2 separate regions of the Homo sapiens genome follow, and region 2 is linked to region 1. A link means that fine-mapping ties the variant in region 1 to the expression of a gene that starts in the linked region. Tissue or cell type: aorta. Region 1 holds a variant in brackets; the other region holds the start of a gene. All regions are shown on one strand. Distances are from middle to middle.

Region 1 (8,195 bases):
AGGTGCAGGTTGGAGCCCCCACCCAGACCCGCACCAGCTGCTGCCATCTCTCATGCTCAGTCCCAGGACAGTTATTCTCAGCTTTCCCGGACACCTCCCTGTTCCCACTAGATGCAACAGCACAGCTAGTTCCTGCTGCATGGTGCTCCCAGCTTCTGAGTCTTTAAAGATTTGTTTTTAGAGATGAGGTCTTGCCATGTTGCCCAGGCTAGTCTTGAACTCCTGGCTTCCAGTCACTGGGGTCAGGCCCTGCAGGAAATTGGTACTGCTCGGATGGGAGGCAGGAATTGGTACAGCTAGGATGGGGCAGGCAAGGCAAGTCCCATTCGATAGACTGTGGCCCACCGAGTGTATGCTCTGCACTTGGAATCCGGAATGATGAGGGGGCTAAGGACCATGACATAAACTGGAAATATTTAACCTAGAAAGACTGTTCTTAGAGACATTGTTATGTTTGAGTAATAAAAGCTAGTACTTACTGGGCTCTAAGTTTGTGCCAGGCATAGTGCTAAGTGTATTATGTGCTTAAAAAAATTCTCAAAGGCCCCATTTTACAGATGTGGAAATCGAAGCACAGGGAAGTGGAAAATCACGGTTACTCTACCACAGTATGAATTCCCATGGGCAGGATCCCCCAATGGATGCTGAAGTGAATGGGCAGAGCTAACTCAGAGAGCTAGGGGTGGCAGGGCTAACATCTGAGCTCAGGTTTTTCTGATTCCAATTTTTTAACTGCCACATGTGGGGAATTAGATTTTTTTTTCTTTTTTTACTACACCTCATGGTAAAATTTGGATCCATAGGTGGCAGCTACAGGGAGATGTATTTCACCTCAGTATAAACAATATCTTTCTATTTCCACCATTCAAAAATGGAGTAGGCAGGCAGCTTTAACAGGTAGTGAGTTCACCATCAATGGTGGCAAACAAACTGAGCATGTATCGGGGACACTACAGAGGGATCCAGCACTGATTAGACAATCAGGATTGCAGAGTGACCTTTTTGGGGTCATTTAGAAAATGTGTGAGTGGAAGAAGGGAGGAAGGTACCAGCCAAGGGAGACTCTAAAATCTGCGAGCAGAATGGCAAACTGTGATTGCTGAAACGTTATGGCCACAGCCAAGGACTCTAGGCACTGCCAGAGATGGGGGGCTGTAAGGAGGCAGCATGTGACAGGGTGAAGAGTGGGCAGTTTTGGGATCAAGATCCCAAGGGGCACAACGTCTTTGTAAATCCTCCACAAAAGGCCTTCCACAGAAACTTTGTACTTCAAAATTCCAGCCCTGGTAGGTCATTCCCTTGGCTTCAGACTTTTTTCTTTGTTGAGATGGAAGTTGATTGGGGCTGAGTCAACTTAGCTAAGTGGGAGCTACATTTCCCACAGTTGCCTTCCCAATATGCTTCCATTTAGGGTTGGCTATAAAGAGGAATATACATGAGATTCGGAAGGTGAAATGAAGAAACAGCAATTTTCAAGCTCTGAAGCCCAGCGTAAGATGCCAAACACTGTGACTGGTCATGGCTGTTGCGGTCCTGCTGCCTGGCCTCATTGACATGGGCAGCACCCAAGCCCATATCTCCTGCAGCTCCCTCCAGCCCTGCTACTCAGACTTCACCTAGTCCTGGGCCAGATGCGAGCGCAGCTCCGTGGTGAAGTGCTCCAGTGTCTCTTGTATCGTCCAGGTTGGATGTAGTTCAAGACAGCTGTGGCTCCAGCCAGTGGGCAGCTTGTGGGCTCAGCCACAATTGTCCTCTCGGGTTGCAGGGCACCTATTGGGTCCCTGTTTGTCTTACTCTCCTCCACCTCACACCTTGATTTCCCTCCTGATTGCCAGCCTGGCCAACCTGTAATGCCTACAGGCCCAACACCAGAAGTAAGGACCACAGTTTTGCCCAGACTTCTCTTCTTTACATTTGTTTTTAGAGATGAGGTCTTGCCATGTTGCCCAGGGTAGTTTTGAACTCCTGGCCTCAAGTGATTCTCCCACTGAAGCCTCCCCTACATAGTCTTCTTAACCGGGTCTTACAATTGCATAAGGCCTAATCCTTTTGTCAAATGCCTTATTCTGTATCACTCATAACAGTTCCGCTTCTCTGACTGAACTCTTTCCTAACTCACACGTAGCTGTCTTCCTCCACACACTGCCAATCTTATCATTCTATTCTACCCTGGCATGTTACTGACTTTTATTAGTGCCTTGCCATTACCTAGAAAATCAAGTCCACATCCCTAAGGGTGGCATTCAAAGCCCTCCATCAGCTTTACCAAAGCCTATCCTCTTAGCTGCTACACTGAACTGCTTTCCAGAAGGCCTGGGAATGAATCTGCCTCTGCCTCCTATTAGCTATGAAGCCTCGGGCTAGTCAATTTCCACTGAACGTCAGTTTTCACATCTATAAAATGGCAAAACCATCCTGCAAGACTGATGTTCTGCCCACACCACAGTTGTTTACTGCCTGTGTGTTCTTTGATGGGTTGGTTCCCATTTCTTGCCAGTTCTTGGATATTTTGAATAGCACCCCGAATTATTTTTCTGTTGCTGCATAACAAATTGCCACAAACACAGTGGTTTCACAATCCTTTATTATTTCGCAGTTTCTATAGTTCAGAGTCTGGGCACAGCAGAGCTGGATTGCCCGTTCAGGGTCTCACAAAGCAACATCAAGGCGTTGGCTGGGGCCCCATGGTGATCTAGAGGATAGGGTCCTCCTCTGAGCTCATTCGGGATGTGGGCAGAATTCAGTTCCTTTTGTCTATGGGGCAGAGTCCCTGTATTCTTGCTGGCTCTCAGCTGGAGGTTGATCTCAGCCCCTAGAGGCCATGCTCAAGTCCTAGCCATGTGGGCCTCTTCCAGCACGGCTACTCACATCTGCAAAGCCAGCAGGAGAATCTCTCTCCAGCCTGCTAGGACAGAGTCTTACATAACACAACCCAGTCAGGGAAGTGACTCCCCATCATGTTCCCAGGGCCTGACCGCTGGGGAGGACCCAATGGGAGGAGATTTTACAGAGCATGTGCATCGGGAGCTGGGAATCTTGGGGCTACCTTAGAATTCTGTCCAGCACAAACCCCGTTACCTCTCAGCACTGTGAGTTGAAAAAAAAACAAAAGGGCTTAGCATAGGGCCTGGCCTGCTGTTTGTCTTTTATATATATTCATTAAATCTCTTTCTCTGACTTATTCATGATTACTGGAGGGCAAAGGATCCCACCTTGTTGTTTTCTCTGTATCTCCAGCACCTGGCATATGGCACGCCCAGGACCCATGGTCCCCTGCGAGTGGAAGGATAGATACAAATGGAGACAGGTAAGGGGCTTCAGGAGGAGCCAAGGAGCAGGGTGGGGGCTGGAGGGCAGGCTCAGATATAAGCAGGCAGAGGGTATCTGTGGTGACGGAAGGCACGTTTTGCCTCCCTCCGCTGTCTCAGATCCCATGCTATGTCACCCTCAGCCTTGGTTGCTGCTGCTACTAACAAATGAGCTGTTCATGCCACCCCCACAAGAGTCTCTGTAGAGGATCCTGGAAGAGCTGCTCCAGAAAGGAAGGGAGGCACCGGGCACCTGCCCAATTAGCTTGGTGACCTCTCTGGTGCAGAGGCTGTCTTCTCTCATCCTGCTCTTTCCCCCAGAGGGGCCCAGTGGGACAGTCCTGAAAATGCAATGTAGAAATCCCAGCTGAGGTGCCCTCCAGAATCCAGGGCTCCAGCTGTGAATACTTCAGCAAGAAGGAGCCTTGTGCCAGGGAAGGTGGCGGAGGGCGGGGTGGAAGAATTGACAGGGCTGGTGTGAGGAATTAGGGCGCTTGGATAACCAGGTGCAAAGGGAGTTCTGCACCCATGCCTTTGCTTATGTCCTTCCCCCAGAGCCCAGTCCTTGCCCACCTCCTTCATGGTGCTTTCCTCCAACACCCCTGAATGAAAGCAGCTGGCTCTTGTTGTTCATGGGCAGTGGGTTTCAGTGAAGGTCTCTGGAGCAGAGTTCAGGACCCCCTAGGTCCTACTTTGTCTAGTAACATGCTATGCAGATGGGGCATGTCAGTTACTTCCTCTAGGAATCAAATTTTTGTACCCTTTAAATGAAGGATCTGGAGCCCAGGACCTCTAGGGTGTCTGTCAGTTTCACATTTGGAAACGCTTCAATTCCAAAGACCTATCTTATCTTATTCTGGTATCTTGCTTTTGTCCCTTCTCCTGCTGGCCTTGAGCTAGGGCTGTGCATGGCCTCGAGCTAGGGCTGTGCATGGCCTCAGTGCTTCCATGTGGGCTGAATTTCATACCACAGATGTTTGCTGAATGAACATCATGCCTGGGACTACTGGTTCTA[T/G]TTTTAGGAGCGTGCTGGAATTTCTAACCAGACTGTGAGCTTCCTGAGGTTAGGGTTTGGAGTGTGCCGCACCTCAGAACCCAGAGGAGACTGAGAAAGGACCCAGGGAACACTGGGGATGAAAACTTTCTATACTCTCTCCATCTACATAACAAACAGAACTCATTCCTGTATTTTGGAAAACACAGACATCTGCACTTTGTCCCCAGAGATCCTGATTTAATTGGCCTATGGTTGGACCTGGGAGGTGATGTTATCCGGAAGCTACCCTAGATGATTGAGCTGGGGTGAGAAGCCCTGGGCTCAGTTAATACCTGAGAGCAGTTCCACCTCTGCCATTCTGTGACTCCTGCACTCCCCATACGTGCTGTTGGTACAGGGCAGAGGAGCCCTATGTGTGAAAACTACTTAGGGCTTTACATTTTTTACTGGTAATAGGAGTTGTGAATCTTCTTGATGAAGCTCATATTTTATGCTTGGTTCTTTGTAGACATTCTCTTTTAATTGAGTCTTCATAGCAACTCTGTGAGATCAATTTCATGATTGCCATTTTAGAGATGAGGACTCGGGAGCTCAGAGAGGGGACTTGATCTGCACAAGGTCACACAACGAGCTAATCAGTGGCTGAGCTGGGATTTGACCCCATATCTGTCTGACTTCAAACTCCATGCTCTTTTCAAACTGGAAAGCTCAAGATAAGTAGCCATTTAGGTAGTTTTTTGGAAATATGCAATTTGGAGCTACTTTAGTACCTAACCAGGGAAAGGGAAGTCTCCCTCTTTTCTGTTTTGGTTATACATTATCCCTAAAGCATCTGGTTCTGCTGCCTTTGACAAAGATGCTCTCTTCTTGAACCAAACTTTAGTCCGGCTCCTCTGAACCTGCTTCTCAACTAGGCCTGGACATTTGTGCTTTTGCGTTTGTCTCTATATTGCCTTGAATGGTTAAAAAAAAGCGCGGCTGGGCGTGGTGGCTCATGCCTGTAATCCCAGCACTTTGGGAGGCTGAGGTGGGCAGATCACGAGGTCAGGAGTTTGAGACCAGCTTGAGCCACATGGTGAAACCCCATCTCTACTAAAAATAACAAATTAGCCAGGTGTGGTGGCATGTGCCTGTAATATCAGATACTCAGGAGGCTGAGGCAGGAGAATCGCTTGAACCCAGGAGGCAGAGGTTGCAGTGAGCCGAGGCCACAGCACTCCAGCCTGGGCGACAGAGCAAGACTCTGTCTCAAAAAGAAAGAAAGAGAAAGAAAGAAAGAGAAGGAAGGAAGAAAGGAAGGAAGGAAGGGAGGGAGGGAGGGAGGGAAAGTGTGGCATATATGCACAATGGAATATACTATTCAGGCTTAAGAGAGAAGGAAATCAATCCTGTTGTTTTCAACAGCATGGATGAACCTGGAAGACACTATGCTAAGTGAAATAAGCCAGTCACAGAAACACAAATACTGCAAGACCCTGTTTATATGTGGAACCTAGAAAAGTTGAACTCATAAAAGCAGAGAGTAGAATATTGGTCACCAGAGGATGGAAGAGTGGGTGGTTGAGGAATGGGGAGATATTGATCAAGGGGTGTGCAGTTTCAGTGAGATAAGAGAAATGAGTTTTGCTGATCTATTACACAGAGTAGTGACTATAGTTAATAATAATGTATTGTGTATTTCAAAATTGCTACAAGAAGGCCAAGGCAGGAGGATTGCTTGAGGCCAGGAGTTTGAGACCAGCCTGGGCAACATAGCAAGACCCCCAGCTCTACCAAAAAAAAAAAAAAAAGTTAGCCAGGTATGGTGGCTCATGCCTGTAGTCCTAGCTACTCAGGGTGCTGAGGTGAGAGGATCACTTGAGCCCAGGAGTCTGAAGTTAGAGTGAGCTATGATCATGCCACTGCACTCCAGCATGGGTGACATAGTGAGACTGTCTCAAAAAAAAAAAAAAAAAGCTAAATGAGTAGATTTTAAGTAATTTCATAACCCAAAAAATGTTAAGTATGTGAGGTGATGGATATGTTAATTAGCTTGATGGAATCATTCTGCAATGTAAACATATATCAAAACATCAAGCTTGACCCACATAGGAAGACCCCATCTCTCCAAAGGAAAAAAAAAAATGCTGGTTGTGGTGGCACACGCCTGTGGTCCCAGCTACATGAGTGACTGAGGTGGGAGGATCACTGGGGCCCAAGAGATCGAGGCAGCAGTGAGCTGAGATTGTGCTGCTGCACTGCAGCTGGGTGACAGAGCGAGATCCTGTCTCAAAAAAAATAAATAAATAAAGATAAAAACACCACACTGTACCCTATAAATATATACAATTATTGTTTGTCAATTAAAAACAAAATTTCAGAAATCTTACTAAGTCAGTTTAGTGAGAATTCCTCATACTTGGTATCTGATCAAATTCTTTATCCTTCACCCTCAGAATCTGATCATCCTGGCCTACCTTCAGTGAGATGTTGAGTAGGTTTAGCCAGAATCCACTCCTACCCCTGATGTTTCCTTTCACTGACCGTCCCGCCACGACCACTCCTGGGCTGTAAATCCTCACTTGTCCTTGCTGTATTTGGAATGGAGTCCAGTTCTAAGGTTCAAGAGTTCTAAGAGTCCTGAGGGCTCATTTCTCCTATTGAAATAGTTCCTGAGTAAAATCTGCTTTTATGGCTCTAATTACTGTCTGGCTCTGGTTTTCTTTAACACTTATATTTGTAGAATGTTGACAAGCTAGAACGTTTTTGAATGAGTGAGGTCAGCCAGGAGACTGAGAGGATCCTGCTGTCACGTGGAGAACCATGGAGGTGTTACAGGCTTTAGTGCAGAAGCAGAGACAGGGAGGCAAGAGAGCTGTCTTCACATGCATCTGGCTGTGCAAGAAGAGAGAGGAGTTCTAAAGCAAAGGATCTGGGCATCCTGAATACTGTTAGGACAGCTCTTACTAAGTAGGAGTGAACAGGAACTGGTTTATACTTAGTTTTAAAGATGAAGTCAGTGCTAAGGAATGGGCCCCTTTCCTGCATGCTCTATATGTTTCTGGGACATTTGCTGTCGGATGACTCTGGCCCTCTTCCAGTGGGAGGACTGGGGGAAACGCTGCAGGGGATGCTCACTGTGGCCCACGTGACCCATGGTGCTGCTCAGTAACATGTCAAGGATGCAGATTCTTTCTGCGCATGCTTGAAACTAGAAGGCAAATGGAGTGCACAGCCTCCCACCTAGCTAGGCACACATTTCATGTTTCCTTAAACTGTTTGTTGGGTGTGCTAGATGGGTACTTGGATCTCACTTGGTGTAAAAAACTCTGGTGGTTTCAAGTAAACAAATACAGAGCACCTATCGGGTGCTAGCTAGAGAGCCAGATGCTGGGAACTGGAACAGGAACTGGGCATATTGGCTGTCCCATAGAAGCTCACAGTCTTGTTTTGGGAAGATGAAAAACACACAATTGACTAAAAGAGGAGACTGACAATGGCAAGTGTGACAGTGATATGGGACACAGGACAGGATGGGGTCCTGACTGAGGAAGGAGTTCCCAGTGAGCTTCACAGACGTGGTGATGTTCCCCAAGTAAGACCCACCTAACGAGAATTTCTTCTGCCTGCATAGACTGGAAAACAGGCTCATTAAAAAGAGACTGTCATTCAGTTGGGGTAAGTGCTAAAGATCTAGAAGTGGTAGAGGTAAGGGATGTGGTTTTTGTTGTAGGGGAAGGGAGTAATGTCAAGGTATGGGGTACCTAGGTGTAGCAATGCTTTCATTAATACCATATATTCCCCTCTGCCTTTCTGATAGAACTCTGCTTCCATTTGGTTAATCTACCCTTCACACGGTCATGCCCTTCATGACAGCATGGCAATTTCATTCCCTTTGGCAGTAACTGGTT
Region 2 (8,175 bases), 82 kb after region 1:
CCTTAGCCACGCTGACAAAACGTGGTAAAATCCAGATGCTAGCAAGCACTTACTGCTGCAGATTCAGAGCTCTCTCCAATAGGAAAGCACATTTTTCTCTCTTTCTCCACCCTGCATGGAACACAGGAATGAAAACAAAGGCTGGGAAGTCCAAAATCACACAGGCTAGAAGGAATCCGTGCAAGTTCTACCTATAAGCAGTGGCCTCCTGACACAGCATCCTGGCACGGCCTCAGGAACTTCCCAGGTCAGCCCATGTGCCCTGATGTGCCTGCATCCGCACAGAGCTATAAATGTAAGAAGATCAAGTGTGCCAGCAGCAGGCTGATTGCTACAATGTGTTCTCAGCCTTTATGCCTGAGAGCATGTCACTGACCCCCCTCCTGGAGCTAGGAGCCCAAGCAGAGGCTGAGAAGTTATTTGGGGGCAGGCTGGGGAGGCGGTGATGTTAGGGAGGGGGTAGGTTGGATGTGTTTATAGCTCATTTCCACTCTGACAATAGAGCAAAGGCCGCTTGGGCTTGGATCCATGTTGAAATAAATGTGCCAGGGCTGGAAAATTCCCAAGATGCTAAAACTCAGACCCAGTTCCCAGAGGCAGAAGTGGGTACAGGACAGGTCATTCTCTGGGCAGGATACCTTCCCCAGAGGGCCTGGTTCTGCCCATGGAGATGTTTATTTCTTCCCTCCTTTCCCCCTTCCTTTTATCCTTCTGTATTTAACAAATACCTGAAAGGTGCCTATTCTATAGTGACCTAGGCCTTTCGAAGTACAGGTATAGACAATATTGGCCCCACCTTTAAGATGCTTGGATACAAGAAAAAAACAACCCCATTAAAAAGTGGGCAAAGGACGTGAACAGACACTTCTCAAAAGAAGACATTTATGTGGCCAACAAACGTATGAAAGAAAGGTCAACATCACTGATCATTAGAGAAATGCAAATAAAAACCACAATAAGATACCATCTCATGCCAGTCAGAATGGTGATTATTAAGAAGTCAAGAAACAACTGATGCTGTAAAGGATCTGGAGAAATAGGAATGTTTTTACACTATTGGTGGTAATGCAAATTAGTTCAACCATTGTGGAAGATGGAGTGGCAATTCCTCAAAGACCTAGAACCAGAAAGACCATTTTACCCAGCAATCTCATTACTGGGTATATACCCAAAGGAATATAAATCATTCTATTGTAAAGATACCTGCACATGTATGTTCACTGCAGCACTATTCACTATAGCAAAGACATGAAATCAACCCAAATGCCCATCAATGATAGACTGGATAAAGAAAAAAATGTGAGATATATATATATATATCTATATCTATATAATCTATATATAGATATATATAGATTATATAGATATAGATATATATAGATTATATATATATAGATTATATAGATATATATAGATTATATAGATATAGATATATATAGATTATATATATATAGATATATATAGATTATATATATATAGATATATATAGATTATATATATATAGATATATATAGATATATATATATATAGATATATATAGATATATATGCCATGGAATACTATGCAGCCATAAAAAGGAACAAGATCATGTCCTTTGCAGGATGGATGGAGCTGGAAGCCATTAACCTCAGCAAACTAATACAGGAACAGAAAACCAAACACCACATGTTCTGACTTATAAGTGGGAGCTGAATGATGAGAACACAGACACAGGGAGGGGAACAATACACACTGGGGCCTGTCACGGGGGCAGAGGGAGGGAGAGCATCAGGAAAAATAGCTAATATGTGCTAAGCTTAATACCTAGGTGATGGGTTGATAGGTGCAGCAAACCACCATGGCACACATTTACCTATGTAACAAACCTGCACATACTGCACATGAACTCCAGAACTTAAAATAAAAAAAAAAAAAAGATGCCCGGATACTCAGACAGATGAAGACATTTGTAAATCAGGGATTGCTGAATCTCTGTCTGTGATGGTTCATTTTGTGTGTCAGCTTGGCTGGGCCATGGTGCCCAGATATTTGGTCAAATATTATTCGGGATGTTTCTGTGAGGGTATTTTTGGATGAGATTAACATCTGGAACAAAGTAGATCACCCACCATAACGTTGGTGGGCTTATCCAATCAGTTGAAGGTCTATATGGAACAAAAGACTGACCTCCCTGAGCAAGAAGGAATTCCGCAGCAGAGGACCTTTGGACTTGACCTGCAAAATCAGCTCTTCCCTGGGTCTCCAGCCTGTCAGCTCACTCTGAAGATTTTGGACTTGCCAGCCTCCATAACACATGAACCAATTCCTTAAATGAATCTCTTTCTCTACATATATACATCCCAATGGTTCTGTTTCTTTGGAAGACCGAAAGACACCCTGTAATGTCACATCTTTTGTCCATGCCTACAGCATCTCTTGCCTGGATCTCCAAGGCCTTCATAATGCCAGTATCTCCTTTCCCATCTTCCCTGTGGCTACCAGCATTCTCTCACCAAGCACAGATTTGAGTACGTTGTTTTGCTTGCAGTCCTTCCAGGCACCCCACCTTCCCCACCAATGCCTTCTAACCTCAGTCATCTTTACACTAGCACCTTCATGATTTTTGTTATATCAGACTTTCTCTTTGCTGACGTCAAAAGTAAGCAGAACTGAGAACTGAATTTCCTCCCTGTTATTCAGTATCACTCAATATTAAATTCACATTTAACACTATCAGAAAGTATTCCATCCCATATTTTGGGGAATGTTGGGTTACAGAATAAAACCCATTCTCCTTTACATGGCCTTGAAGTTCCTTTAGCATCAATAAGTACAGTTATCTCTTGGTATCCATGGGGGATTGGTTCCGGGAGCCTTCAAGGTACACAAATCCCTGATATAAAATGAAGCAGTATTTGCATATAACACGTGCATATCCTCTCACATACTTTAAGTCATCTCAAGATTACTTGTAACACCTAATGCAATGTCACTCGTCACTGCATTTGTGTGCATTCAGTGTTGTAGGTGGCACATGACAAATTCAATTTTTGCTTTTTGGAACTTTGAGGATTTTTTTTCCTGAATATTTTCAATCCATGATTGTTTGAATCCACTGAACTCACAGATACAGGGATATAGAGGGCCAACTGTATGTATTAAGTGCTGGCAATGTGCTAGGCACCAAGCAATTCATCTTTAGTCCTTCCTCCAAAACGCCAAAGTGATTCCCCTGCACCACTCTCTGAGAAGTATGCCTTTTTTCTTTGCTTCCTGGAGAACTCATTCTGGAGCTCTGAAATCCAGCTACCTCTTTGTAAAACGATCTCCCAAGTATTACCTCAGCCCCCAGCAGTCCTCACTTCTGTAACATCATTTATTGTTGTCACACTGCAAATATTAGGTTGATGCAAAAGTAATTGCAGTTTTTGCCATTATTTTTAATAGCAAAAACCACAATTACTTTTGCACCAATCTAATATGTGTTTTTCTCCCTGGCCGAAGCTCAAAGGTGAAGGAGCATGTCTTATTCATTGTTAGGAGTTTTCAAGGGGACCTCTCTATTTCCTGCCTGGTTTCTGCACACAATGAGAAATAAAACAAAAGACAGGAAATGGGGATCACACTATTACTGTTGTTGTTATTGTTGTTGTTTAGATTAAAACTAAGTTAGAGAATTTACCTTTTGCATGAGACTAAATAGCCCTGTTAGGTGAATCCAGAATTAGGCTGTCTCACGGGCTACGCGAGGACCACACAGGTAGGCAGGCTTCCCTACAAAGGGTAGAAGAGTCTGTCCTTGGTGAAGTGGCTCAGTAAACTTGCTCCCTAGAAAGCAGCTGTCTTCCAGGAGAAAGAAGGGCAGGCTTGGTTCTACAGGCCAGTGTTTTCCTTCTCACATTCACCGGTCAGGGGCTCATAGGGAAAAATCTGCCTTCATCCAGCCGTGGAGTGAGGCAGGGGTGTTTTACCTGCTAGGATTGAACCCTCAGATTGCACAGATTATACAGTTTCAGAAAACCAGAGGGACAGGACCTCAGACATTAGCTATCTTGACCAGTGCTCTCATTTTACATATGAGGAGACTGAGGCCCAAAGAGAAGGGGCTTGCCCAAGGTCACTTCATTCTCACCTGAGTCGTCTGTAACTTTAATCTGTAATTTTCGAGGCCGATAGGTACTATTGACTAATATTGATTAATACTGCCTGCCACCCCTTGGCAATGCTGTCAAGATTCCCAGCCCCATTCTGGAATGATTACTCAGCTAGAACCCTGGGATCCAGGTGCTGTAAGGTTGGCCCCTGGGATATCTCGGCATGGGGCTGTAATTGTGGATTAAGGAAACCCAGTCCTTGGCTAACTCAAGTCTCTCCACATAATAAAAAGACGGAGAAGTGAAATGTCAGGAGGAAATACACATTTAATGCATTTTAAAGAGCCCTGTTTATTTTTGAATCCTGGCCTTTTTTTCTGACTTAATTCTTGGCCACTGTAAATTACTTCAAAAAATGATTTTAGAATAGAGAAGGGGCAGGGAGGCTGAGAAGCTGTCTTTAACATTTTATCTTCCTTTGGCATCATTTAGAATTTTAATTCCGAAGCGCGACAAGGAGGCAGAAACGGCTCTTGGGCGCAGACAAGCAGAATCACTTTAAATGAAGACAGTGTTGTGCTTCAGAATTTCCTCTAAAACTACCGAAAAAATAACGCCTCTCCCAGCACTGCTTAGAATAGAGGCCATTTCTAATTCCTCATTAACGGGAATAGGAACAAAAGTATTCCAAAGCAAAGACTTATTTGAGTTCACTGCTAAAGCCGCTACATCAAGCTGGAGGTGTGGGGGGAGAGAAAAGCCTGAAAATTAACATCATTTTTGGGAAATAATCAGTTTAAATGCTTTTGTAACTTCATCACTATCTACCCGGGGAAGAACATTATTATTCAAGCCTCCTATGTGTCTCGGAGTCAAGAGCTTCTAAACCAAGAAAGGAAGAAACGGGCGGGTTATTGACGAGTTCCCTCCCTCTCGCAGTTTTAAACCACTGCAAAATAAACCCATTTGTTAAGGCTCTGGGACCAACGCTGGGCGAACCAGCTCCGCTCCGGAGGGGTCTGCGCGGCTGGCCTCGCCCGCCCCCTAGCGGACCCGTGCGATAGTGCAGCCTCAGCCCCAGCGCACAGCGCCGCATCCAGACGCTGTCCGCGCGCGCAGCCTGGGAGGCGCTCCTCGCTCGCCTCCTGTACCCATCCAGCGACCAGCCAGGCTGCGGCGAGGGGATTCCAACCGAGGCTCCAGTGAGAGACCTCAGCTTAGCATCACATTAGGTGCAGCCGGCAGGCCATCCCAACTCGGGCCGGGAGCGCACGCGTCACTGGGGCCGTCAGTCGCCGTGCAACTTCCCCGGGGGGAGTCAACTTTAGGTTCGCCTGCGGACTCGGTGCAGGTAGCTGGGTGCTAAGCAGGGGTGGACGGGATGGCTAGGGCCGGTGGAGCCATCGGGACCCGAGTGGAGGTGGTGGGGTGCCTCGCACTCCTTGTTCCTGGAGGAGCTCGGGGTGTTCCGAGAGATTGTAAAGTGACTTCTCGGGATTGAGACTCAGAGTCCTTGATTATCTGGGTCCAAAGCGCAAGTCAGGGGTTCCAGAACTTTCGAGGCTGCCGGGCTGGGGAGGAGCCCCGCGGGAGGTGTCTATGCCAGGGTCTGGGAACAGCGCTTGGGCATCTTGGGCTTTGAGGCAGGGGTTCCCCCAGCAGGGACTGCAGAACCGGGTTTCCACCGAAGCAGGTGCTGTGGAAGTTCAGGGAGTGACGGCCGACCGTCTTAGAAAAGGGGGTTAGACGGGGAAGGACCAGAGCTGGGGTTTCCCAGGCAAGTGGCTATTTGGGGATTTCCGGAGGAAGTACTTGAATTAATGTTTACTAGGAGAGGGGCTGGTTTGGGGGTCCCGCGGCAGGTGGATATGCTGAGGGTCGGAGCCTGGGGCGAGTAGGTAGTTTGGAGATTCCCTCGGGGAGGTGATTTGGTTTTAGATTCCCACTCCCGGAGGAACGTTGCTGATTTTGACCCTCCCTTCTCCCCCAGTGGAAGCCGCTGAACATCCCGAGGAACTGGCACGCTGGGGGCTCTGGGCTTGTGGCCGGTAGAGGATTCCCGCTCATTTGCAGTGGCTCAGAGGAGGTACCTCCAACGGGGATTTCTGGGGTGGCGGCTGAGCAACCCGAGGCCGGCGGTTGTGCCCTGTTGTTTCAGATGAGTTGGGTTCCTGGGAATGGGACAAGCACGCCCTACCCGCGTCGGAAGAGAAACGCGGCGGTCTCCTCACGGCCCTCCCGGTTTGTTTCAGGGTGGACCCAGCAGATCCGTCCGTGGAGTCTCCAGGAGTGGAGCCCCGGGCGCCCCTACACCCTCCGACACGCCGGATCCGGCCCAGCCGCGCCAAGCCGTAAAGGGCTCGAAGGCCGGGGCGCACCGCTGCCGCCAGGGTCATGGAGGGCGCGCTCGCAGCCAACTGGAGCGCCGAGGCAGCCAACGCCAGCGCCGCGCCGCCGGGGGCCGAGGGCAACCGCACCGCCGGACCCCCGCGGCGCAACGAGGCCCTGGCGCGCGTGGAGGTGGCGGTGCTGTGTCTCATCCTGCTCCTGGCGCTGAGCGGGAACGCGTGTGTGCTGCTGGCGCTGCGCACCACACGCCAGAAGCACTCGCGCCTCTTCTTCTTCATGAAGCACCTAAGCATCGCCGACCTGGTGGTGGCAGTGTTTCAGGTGCTGCCGCAGTTGCTGTGGGACATCACCTTCCGCTTCTACGGGCCCGACCTGCTGTGCCGCCTGGTCAAGTACTTGCAGGTGGTGGGCATGTTCGCCTCCACCTACCTGCTGCTGCTCATGTCCCTGGACCGCTGCCTGGCCATCTGCCAGCCGCTGCGCTCGCTGCGCCGCCGCACCGACCGCCTGGCAGTGCTCGCCACGTGGCTCGGCTGCCTGGTGGCCAGCGCGCCGCAGGTGCACATCTTCTCTCTGCGCGAGGTGGCTGACGGCGTCTTCGACTGCTGGGCCGTCTTCATCCAGCCCTGGGGACCCAAGGCCTACATCACATGGATCACGCTAGCTGTCTACATCGTGCCGGTCATCGTGCTCGCTGCCTGCTACGGCCTTATCAGCTTCAAGATCTGGCAGAACTTGCGGCTCAAGACCGCTGCAGCGGCGGCGGCCGAGGCGCCAGAGGGCGCGGCGGCTGGCGATGGGGGGCGCGTGGCCCTGGCGCGTGTCAGCAGCGTCAAGCTCATCTCCAAGGCCAAGATCCGCACGGTCAAGATGACTTTCATCATCGTGCTGGCCTTCATCGTGTGCTGGACGCCTTTCTTCTTCGTGCAGATGTGGAGCGTCTGGGATGCCAACGCGCCCAAGGAAGGTAGCCAGGGCTGGGAGACCCAGGAGGAGGGAGCCTGGTGGCTGGGGGAGGCCCTTATCTTGCTGCCTCAGAATGTCCAGGGGTCTGTGGACTTCCTGGGGGATAAGCGGGTTTGAAATCCCACAGAGTCACTGCTCTGTCATCCCTTGACCAAGTGACTTAGGGCAATTAACCTCCCTGAGCCTCCACTTTCTCTTCTGTAAGGTGGCAATAAGGATAAAAGTACCAACTGTCACCAGGCATAGGGGAATGCCACGAGAAAATGCAGTTAAAGTCCTTAGCACAGTCCTTGGGCTGCATATGGGCTGTATGGTTTACTGTGGTGGTGGAAACAGGTTCAAGGGACTCCATCTGCTTTCCCACGTGGTTAGGAGGAGGTGGTGGAGGTAAGTTTGGAACCCCTGGCCAAGCTCAAGCTCCTTCAACTTTAAGTTCACGTTAAGATGAACTTCCACTTTAAGTTCAAGAAATCCAGCTGAAGCCAAGAAGTCTGGTTTGGACAAGGACAGCCTTGCAGGAGTGGCAATTTGTCCAACCAAGCACCTAGTAGTTGAAGGGGGTGTTGGGGGGCAGAGGAGTCCAAGGGAGAGGTGAAGACAAATCCCTGAACTCCTCATCGAGTGGAGGTGATGAGTCTCCATGCAGAGAGGTGAGTACTGCAAGGAGTGGTGGGCAGGCTTAGGGAGGAGAGCGCCCAGGACTGAGACTTCACTTCCACTTGGAGGAAAGAGAAGAAAGCCTTGAGGGGGACATTCAAGTTTGAGGGGGAGGCTGGGTGATTTCTGT

Evidence for each region. PIP is the estimated chance that this variant, and not a neighbour inherited with it, causes the effect.
Region 2: it holds the start of OXTR, and the variant in region 1 is fine-mapped to the expression of OXTR in aorta (GTEx, PIP above 0.99). The same link has a PIP of 0.9 or more in fibroblasts and tibial artery.

The regions. Positions count from the first base shown.
Region 1 is chr3:8,847,991-8,856,185 of GRCh38, reverse strand. It overlaps LOC107984112 (a long non-coding RNA gene), which reads left to right. Exons shown (of 2, transcript XR_007095814.1): 1 at 1-3,307. Among named protein-coding and RNA genes, the nearest start is that of OXTR, 82 kb to the right of the region's middle. The variant T/G (reference allele first, on the strand shown) is at 4,324.
Region 2 is chr3:8,766,480-8,774,654 of GRCh38, reverse strand. OXTR (oxytocin receptor) reads left to right here and starts at 5,042. Exons shown (of 4, transcript NM_000916.4): 1 at 5,042-5,424; 2 at 6,064-6,159; 3 at 6,326-7,389. The coding sequence starts at 6,468. RefSeq lists enhancers at 4,878-4,927, 5,575-6,246, 6,919-7,590 and a silencer at 6,538-6,597.